Homo sapiens: one gene and its partner. The protein of the gene in region 1 purifies or fractionates together with the protein of each later gene. This does not show direct contact. Each region holds a gene or a part of one and is shown on either strand. Other genes may lie near its edges.

The links. The genes of interacting proteins can lie anywhere in the genome.
Region 2: the proteins of PDHA1 (region 1) and RAB7A fractionate together in Homo sapiens (co-fractionation; 3 studies listed by BioGRID, with this or other methods). This does not show direct contact.

Annotation. Positions count from the first base shown.
Region 1 is NC_000023.11:19,353,481-19,357,458, forward strand, and holds part of PDHA1 (pyruvate dehydrogenase E1 component subunit alpha, somatic form, mitochondrial isoform 1 precursor), read left to right. Parts: intron 1-1,010; coding exon 1,011-1,103; intron 1,104-1,868; coding exon 1,869-2,024; intron 2,025-2,205; coding exon 2,206-2,277; intron 2,278-3,978. UniProt on the Homo sapiens protein: The pyruvate dehydrogenase complex catalyzes the overall conversion of pyruvate to acetyl-CoA and CO(2), and thereby links the glycolytic pathway to the tricarboxylic cycle.
Region 2 is NC_000003.12:128,731,725-128,737,037, forward strand, and holds part of RAB7A (ras-related protein Rab-7a), read left to right. Parts: intron 1-5,313.

The DNA.
Region 1 (3,978 bases):
GCTCTACTATACAGCCTAGGTGTGCAGTGGGCTGTACCATCTAGGTTCGTGCATTACAGTATGGTGTTCACATGACAAAATCGCCTAGTGATGCAATTCTGAGAATATATCCCTGTTGTTAAGTGACGCGTGACTATTTTGGGGGCTTGGTTTGCTTTTAAAGACCTAGTGCTTCATATCCTACCGTTTGAGAGATGAGTAGATTTGGATGGTGATTTATAATGTTTCCTTTTAGGTGTCTGCTGTTTTATAAGTAAGCAGGAACCTCTAGCAGTGGAGCCATACCTTCCCCTTCCTATTTATATTTCAGTACATTAATTGCTTTATCTTGTCAACTTCATTTTGGGGTCCTTGTTCTCATCAGTTAGTGAATGATGAAGAATTAACAGCACAAAATTATATCCGGACTGTTTCTTTTCCTTTCTAATATATTAAGATTCTATTATGTGTTGTTTTTTTTTAAACCTAGGTTTTATTTTTCCTTTTGAAATGGAGTCTTGCTCAGCCGCCCAGGCTGGAGCAGTGGTGTAATCTCAGCTCACTGCAACCTCCACCCCCGGGTTCAAGCAATTCTCCTGCCTCAGCCTCCCGAGTAGCTGGGAATATAGTTACGTGCCACCATGCCCAACCATTTTTTGTATTTTTAGTAGAGACGGGGTTTCACCATCTTGTCCAGGATGGTCTCGATCTGTGGACCTCGTGATCTGCCCAAAGTGCTGGGATTACAGGCGTGAGCCACCACGCCCGGCCAGGTTTTATTTTTTAACTCTTGAATGCAGAAATGTTAGTGCTTACTGGTTAAAATAGAACATAGTATTTATATATTACTTTAGTGCTTTATTGAAAATATCGGAGGTGGGATAAACAGAGAGATAGGGTTGGAAGGAGAGTTTGTAGCAGCAGTGTAATTTCTGTGTCAGATTCTGGCCAGGAGTGAAAATGCAGGGCATTAATTAGTATCTCCCCTCATGGATTTCTGTGGTTCCTTTCTCGGTTGTCCTTAATGTTAGGTGCCCCTGGGCGCTGGGATTGCTCTAGCCTGTAAGTATAATGGAAAAGATGAGGTCTGCCTGACTTTATATGGCGATGGTGCTGCTAACCAGGTAATTATGTCTCTTAACTTCCCAAAAACAGTCTTATTTTCAAAGTCTTTAATATTTACAGTTGAATTTCTAAAGAAGTAGCATATTGCTTATTAGGTGAAATAGCAAGTCCTATGGCTAGCTCAAATTTGGTTGACTTATGGCCAGATTAGAGATTGACCTCTTAGCGTTGTTTCACAAGAGACTTACGGGGGCACATTCCTGTGAAGGAGCTCACCTTTGCTCTACATCAGTGCTTGGCAAAGGCCCTGTGGTAAAGGACCTCCCCACAACCTATTGCAAAACAATACAGACCCATTCTCTTGGATGTCCGGGCTGGCAGTGTCAAATTCGGATAATAGCGTCTGAGTCCTAACTCAGTTTCTATGCTTCTCTTGTTACCGAGTAATCCCCAGTCTGTGGCCAGCACTCTGTGAAGCCCTGTTCTAGAGGCTGATTCTTAGGTGCTGGTTCACTCTGGCTATCCAGTGGGCCTGATAGATTTCATATTGATCTTTTTTCCAGTGTGTTCCTTACTGCTAGCATGGCCCCAAAGAAACAAGTAGTAGTTGGTTTGTCACCTTCCTTAGTTGCAAGAGTATGATGCCTGCTACTTCTCCTCCACCACCCACCCCGCTTTCCCTCACCACCCAAAGCTCGGTTTTAGAAGAGGAGGCTTTCTGTGCTTTATGAAAGCTTTCTGTGCCAGGCAGAGCAGCAGCTGTTAGAGATGATGAAGCCTGGAGAAAGAAGCCAAATGAAACCCCTTTTCGTAACTACTTCCAGGGCCAGATATTCGAAGCTTACAACATGGCAGCTTTGTGGAAATTACCTTGTATTTTCATCTGTGAGAATAATCGCTATGGAATGGGAACGTCTGTTGAGAGAGCGGCAGCCAGCACTGATTACTACAAGAGAGGCGATTTCATTCCTGGGCTGAGAGTAAGGACACCTGTGGTGGGGCCGGGGCCAAGGCCAAGGCCAAGGGTATGTCCTTGTGCAGACCCTTGACGATCTTAGAAACATTGGAGAGTTTCATTCTCATACAGGAGCAGGTCATGTGAAAGTAAAATGGTTTGGGGCAGTTGGATTCATGCTTCGCCCCTCCCCTGTTTATTACCAGGTGGATGGAATGGATATCCTGTGCGTCCGAGAGGCAACAAGGTTTGCTGCTGCCTATTGTAGATCTGGGAAGGTAAGGCTCTAAAGCCCTCTGGGCTAGTGACATTTATCTCTGGAAGTTCAAAGACTGCCTCCCATGTGCCTGCTGAAGCTGTTAGTGGGTACCTGCTAATTGAGGTGCATGAGATGGAAGCAGAGTGAAGGGAGCAGGGCTCCTTTGGGTAGCTTGGTCTTGGTAGCTCACCTGCTGGGAAGCCTACGTTTCTCTCATTTGGGGGAAGTCCGTTCTGGTGCTTCCTCTGCTTTGGCCTGTCTTCATGACAACTGATTTGCCTTTTCCTTAGGTTAATTCTGTCCCTCCTCCCCACCCCCCATTAATCATGAGTCCCTTGAAGGAACAGATTGGGGATCCCCACAGTGTCCAGCATAGAATGTCATGTATACAATAGGCATTTAATATGTGTGTCTTATACAAATTAAACAGTATGGTAGAAGCTCGTAATCTTAGTCTTGCTCAGTCCTAAGGATCTTTCCCTTTTCAGTGTATGGCAGTGAGGGAGATGGTAAGAGGGAGACTGGCCTAAAGAGGTTTCACTTCCTTTGGCACTAGTATAGGCTTAGGAGGTTTGGGTGTTCTCCCTAAATCAGTGTTCTACAGCCCAGAAACAAGGTTTCTGAAGTTGGCACTTCAGCGCCATACCATGTACGTTTAGGCAGTGATGTGAATCAGATGTGGCCAGCAATGATGGAAATGTCACAAAGTGGAGAGACAGGGAAGTGAGGGTGGGAATGTAGTAACATTAAATAAGAGCTAATGAGTAGAATGAACTAGAGCAGGACCAAGACTACAGCTTGGGTACAATGGGCTGAGCAGTCTATGTCAGGACCCTAAGGCTGGGAGTGCCAGGCCCTGAGTGATGGGTATTGACGCCACCTCTCCCAATTCCTGAAAAGAATACATGGGGGCCAGCCCTGGCTGGAGACAAGGGGAGTTGTAGAATGTAGTTGTAGAATGTGTGACTTTCCCAAACAGATAACCTTCACAATTCTGAGTTAGGTGTTATTGTTTTGCCCATTTTGCAGACAAGGAAACTGAGCCATAGAGCAGTTAAAGGTACACAGCTACTCTGTCTTGGAGCCAGCTCCCCACTCGCCCATTTTAACTGCTGCACCAAACCAACCAAGGATCCTCAATGTTTCTCCACCCCAGTGTTCAGAGCCGTCTCCTGGAAGTGGGCTAGTGTAGAATGAGCGAGCCCAACTGTCCAGACTCCCAGCAGAGCCTTGGGGTTTGGGTAGCAGAGGTTGTTGGTGCCTGCCAACTTTGTTACACACTAGCAAGGTCTGTGAAGTAGGAGTGGCTGCCAGCCCCACAACACACCATGAGAAAGGAGCATGAGATGGAAATCTGTCTAGCCAATAGCAGGAGGCTCTAGAACATGCTCAGAGCCTTTTTCTTTTTTCACAGGGTCTCGCGCAGTGGCACACTCACAGCTCACTGCACCCTTGACCTTCCAGAATCAGGTGATCCTCCCAAGTAGCTGGGACTACAGGCGCACGCCACCATGCCTGGCTAATTTTTGTATTTTTTGATAGAGATGGGGTTTTGCCATGTTGTCCAGGCTAGTCTCGAACTCCTGGGCGCAAGTGCTCTGCCCACCTCAGCTTCCCAAAGTGCTGGGATTACAGGCATGAGCCACCATGCCTGGCCTTCAAAGCCTTTTTGATTCAAAACAAGCTGTTGGCAGATTGCCTTATTAAAAATGAGAAAGAT
Region 2 (5,313 bases), on another chromosome or scaffold:
CGGCCGGGGGCGATGGCTCACACCTGTAATCCCAGCACTTTGGGAGGCCGAGGAGGGTGGATCACAGGGTCAAGAGATAGAGACCATCCTGGCCAACGTGGTGAAACCCCGTCTATACTAAAAATATAAAAATTAGCTGGGCATAGTGGCATGCACTGTAGTCCCAGCTATTCAGGAGGCTGAGGTAGTAGAATCGCTTGAACTGGGGAGGCGGAGCTTGCAGTGAGCCGGGATCGTGCCATTGCACTCCAGCCTGGCGACAGAGCAAGATTCCATCTCAAAAAAAAAAAAAAGTGTCTCTTTCTTCCACTACCTTTTTTTTTTTTCTCTCTCTGAGACAGAGTCAAGCTCTGTCGCCAGGCTGGAGTGCAGTAGCATGATCTCGGCTCACTGCAACCTCCGCCTCTCGGGTTCAAGCAATTCTCCTGCCTCAGCCTCCTGAGTAGCTGGGGCTACAGGTGCACGTCACCATGCCCAGCTAATTTTTGTATTTTTAGTATAGATGGGGTTTCACCATGTTGGCCAGGATGGTCTCAATCCCTTGACCCTGTGATCCGCCCGCCTTGGCCTCCCAAGGTGCTGGGATTACAGGCGTGAACCACCACGCCTGGCCCACTACCTTTTATTTAAAATGATACGTCTTTTTTGCTGATTATTAAACTATTCAGTTAAAAAAAAAAAGCTAGGAAAATTCAGAAATATAAAGAAGGAAAATTTGTGATTCACTACCCCGAGGAAGACCAAAGTGTTAACTGGTTATTTTCTTCCTTTGAATGTATACTTTCATACCTTCCTTTAATGAGATTGAACTCTTGGCCAGGCATGGTGGTCAGTACTTTGGGAGGAGTAATCCCAGCACTTTGGGAGGGTAAGGCAGGAGGATTGCTTGAGCCCAGGAGTTCAAGACCACCTTCAGCAACAAAGTAAGACTCCATCTCTACAAAGAAAAGAAAAAATTAGGTGGGTGTGGTGGTACACTTGTGGTTCCAGATGGTGGGAGGCTGAGACGGGAGGATCACTTGATTCCAGGAGTTTAAGGCTGCAGTGGTTTGTGTTCGTGGCACTGCACTCCAGCCTGGGTGGCAGAGCAAGACCCTGTCTCAAGAAAAAAGAAATTGAACTCTCCCCAAAAATGATGTGAGAATTTAACTGTGGAGGAGACCAGATACTCTTGGGTGATGTGACCTGTGATACTTCTCCTAGTAGACACTGAATGATGAGAAGCTGGGGATCATAGGAATAGCTGTATTTTTCAAATGTTTGTTGGTAACGAGTGAGGAACCTGATGCATCCAGCTCCAGAGTAAGGTTTATTTGCCATGGTAACACTGGATAAGTACATTGTTGCCTGTATTTCCAAGTAATTTATCATTTCTGTATTTTAGTAAACATACATATATACAGAAAAGTGCACAAATAAGTGGACGGCTTAGAGAATTTTTATAAACCCAGAGGCCCTCTTAGTCTCCTTTAAGTCATTATCATCGATGCCCTGATGCTTGCGTAGTGAGTCTTCTGATTTCTAGAACTGTAGACTAATTTTGCCTGATTTGGATTTTGTGTAAATGGAATCATACACTGTGTATTCTTGCGTATCTGGTTTCTTTGACTCAGTGTTGTTTGTGAGACTTTGTGTTGTTGTGTACAGTTGTAACTGGAGTTTCCATTGCTCAGTAGTATTATGTGATATATCATAATGTATTTAAGTAAAAAGACTGAGTTTTAGGGTATGTGTCTGTATTCATTTGCTAGGGCTGCCGTAACAAGTATCACAGATAGAGTGGCTTAAACAGAAATTTATTTTCTCAATTCTGAAGGTTAGAAATCTGAGGTCAAGCTGTCGGGAGGATTAGTTTCTTCTGAAGCCTCTCCTTGGTTTGTAAATGACTGTCTTCTCTTCCCTGTATCTTCACAGGATCTTTCCTCTGTATTGGCTGTGTCCTATTCTCCTTTTCTTTTAGGACACCAGTCGTATTGGATTGAGGCCCACCCTTATGACCTCACTTAACCTCAGTTACTTCTTTAAAGGCCCTGTCTGCAAATAAGTCACATTCTGATATATTGGGGATTAGAATTTCAACTTAAAAATTTTAGGTGGACACAGTTCACTTCATAAGAGTATCTATTCTGCTCTAGTAGATATGGCCAGTTTTCAAAAGTTGTACCAGCGTATTCTTCCACCAGCAGTATATAAGAAGTCCAAATATTCCACATCCTTGCTAGCACTTGTAACTTTTTCTCTCTAATTTTAGTTCCCTCTGGTAGAAAGCCATTTCTTTATGGCACCATGGTACAGCTTGTTTACTCACCAGTGTAGGGGAACCTCAAGGGACTGGGGAAGGTTATCCTGGAGTAAAACGTGTCAGTTTGAGACTACCTCTTGTAAATGCTACTTAAATCCATTGGGGTTAAAAGCAGAGGTTCGGCCAGGCACAGTGGCTCATGCCTGTAATCCCAGCACTTTGGGAGACCGAGGTGGGCGGATCACTTGAGGCCAGGAGTTCAAGACCAGCCTGGCCAACATAGCGAAACCCTGTGTCTACTGAAAATACAAAAAATTAGCCAGGCGTGGTGGTGGGCACTTGTAATTCCAGCTACTTGGGAGGCTGAGACATGACAATCGCTCGAACCTGGGAGGTGGATGTTGCATGAGAATCGCTTGAACCTGGGAGGTGGAGCTGAGATTTCACCACTGCACTCTAGCCTGGGCGACAGAATGAGACCCTACCTCAAAAAAAAAAAAAAAAAAAAAAAGGAAAGAAAAGAAAGAAAGGAAAACACCGCTTCAGTCCAGTGAATGAGCAGTTAGTCTTCCATAGTTGCCCATAGCTTACTTTTATAGTCTGGACTCCATTCCTGGTGGTGGAATTGGCCTGTGAAAGAGTAATCTGTGGGGTGTAGATCTAACCATAGTAGATGGTGCTTTCATTCCAACTCTCTTTTTTGGTCAGACACTTGAGCCCTTAGAATATCACATTCTATCGTACATATGCTAGAAATAGGTCTGTTTTGCATATTCTGACTGACCCTTCAGATATTAGTGGGCCTTTCACCACCAGCCTTTTGGCTGCGTGATCTTCAGCTTTGTGTATCCATTATAGACCTTAGTTTGATTGAAATAATATTACATGACTTTGCCTGTCTTCCAACTCTAAGCCACTTGAGGACAAGGATGAATCATTATTCTAGAATGGATCTTGAAATATTACTAAGCTTTTGTTTAAATTTTTTCCAGTTCTAGCTTTTCAGAGTAAGTTACCGTTTATAGCATGTAAGTTATGCTTCTGGGTCAGTGGTTAATATATGTGGGTTTCCTGAATGATGAACTATGTGTTCTGTGTTCATTTAACAGGTTTTTCTTCTCTACTATAAGAAAACACTGTTGGCCCCTGTGGAGAATTATTCAGGAATAATTGTAAATACAGGGCAGATGAGAGTTACTTAGTTTAGAGTTGTTCAATGCCTGGGGTGGTGAGGGGCATGTTGAGTGGATTTTTAAATAAATTGGTAGGCAGGTGAGAGTTGGGAAACCATTATAGTTGGAAAGAATGGCATAAGTCAATGAATGGATGTAGGGATTGCAGTAGCTCTAATTTGGGAATGACTGTATGTATGGAAACCAGATCCTGGTAGGGAGGGCAGGCACTGCAATCCCTTGTTAGAGGATTTAAGTTCAACCAAGTGGCACTTCACTCTGTAATGCTGGAATAGACACAGCATAATCCTGTCACTTGAACCTCACAATTAAGTCAGATAGTACCCCAGTTATGGGTGAGGAATGGCTTTGATGTTGTAATTTGTCTAAAGAAACCATACATTAAGAGCTTAGTGGGCTAGGATTGAAATACTACAAGAGTTGTGCTTAAACTTTCAGAGAGTTGCTTCTTCAGAAGTGGCTTTAATGAAAAGTTAAACATGGGAGCTGGTTAGGGGAGGTGGGATAGAGGAAGAGAGCAGTTAGTTTGGTTTTCCTCTTTAGCCAGCCCATTGTGGGCTCCTCTTAGCAATTTATGGGCAGTCTGTTTTACTGGTTAAATGCCTGAGATAATCTAGGGTTGATATCAAACTATCGAAGATAGTTCTTATGTAACTGTTTTACTAGCTATCTGCTTTCCAGTTTGCCTTACCAAAAAGAAAAAAAGGCAGGAATCATCCTGGTCTCTCGTTAGAGACTAAACTTTTGGCTTAGTACCTGGGTTCAGAAAGCTTGATGACAGTGGTGCATCGTATTGAAGAATCTATTGATCCAGGAGTGAAGTCCTCTTCACAAGAATTGCCTTCCAAGACACTCTTCTTTGTGTAAGTTGCCTTTGCCTTTTCCCTCCCAGCAGGAATGCAGTACTCAGAGCAAAGTACATAAACAATGTCTTTACATTTCATAGAGGTTGTTACCTTGTTTAAACTTCACAATTTAAGCAGCATTTGATTTGTCTCTTTTTTTTTTTTTAGATGAGGAAATGGACTAAAAGGTCATGCTCAGTATCTTGGAGCCACTGTGTGTTAGTGGGACTGGGACTAGCATCCAGTATTCCAAGTTGACAGATAATTCTTTAATAATGGCAGAAGAATAATAGCATCTTCTGCGGAAGAACAGCCTTTGTACATTTTATCATTCAGTTTTATTTAAATGTTTTTAAAAGAGGGATTTCAGACTAGTCTGTTTCTTTTGAAACATAGATTTTCAGGTGGTGAATCTTCAAGCACTATCAGACAGAATAAGCTAGGTTATGCTGTAGTAACCAATAACCTCAAAGTGGTCAAAAAGAGCATGGGTTTTCTAGAGGCTCTGCATCATTCTTACTCCAACCAAAGGAGCAGCCGTGATAGGAGTATTGATGGCTGTCTTGGCAAAGGGAAAAAGAACTGTTGGAGGCAGTTAAATTCCAGCACGTACAGTTTAAATCCAGCACATACAGATAAATTTAAATACTGTTAAATAAAGTTATTTAACAGTATTTAAATTTAAAAAAATTTAAATACAGTTGAATACAGTTAAATTCCAGCACAGGAATGACACATTATTTCATGTCACTTCTGCTTAGGGTTCATTGGCCAAAATGAGTCACACCACACAAGGAATCAAGTGTGATCCTACATGTGTGGACTTGGAAGGCACGGAGTTGGAAATATTTGGGAAATAGCACTAGTATCATACTTGGCTTATAATATGTAATAGCTATTGGGGGAAATAGCTCTCATTTGCAGAATCTCTTTCTACAAATCAGCTGGTAATTTAAATGCTAAAAAGAGCTTAGTTATAGATACTGTGTTGCCCGTCTTTACTCACTAATCACCTTCCGATCCTAAGAAATTT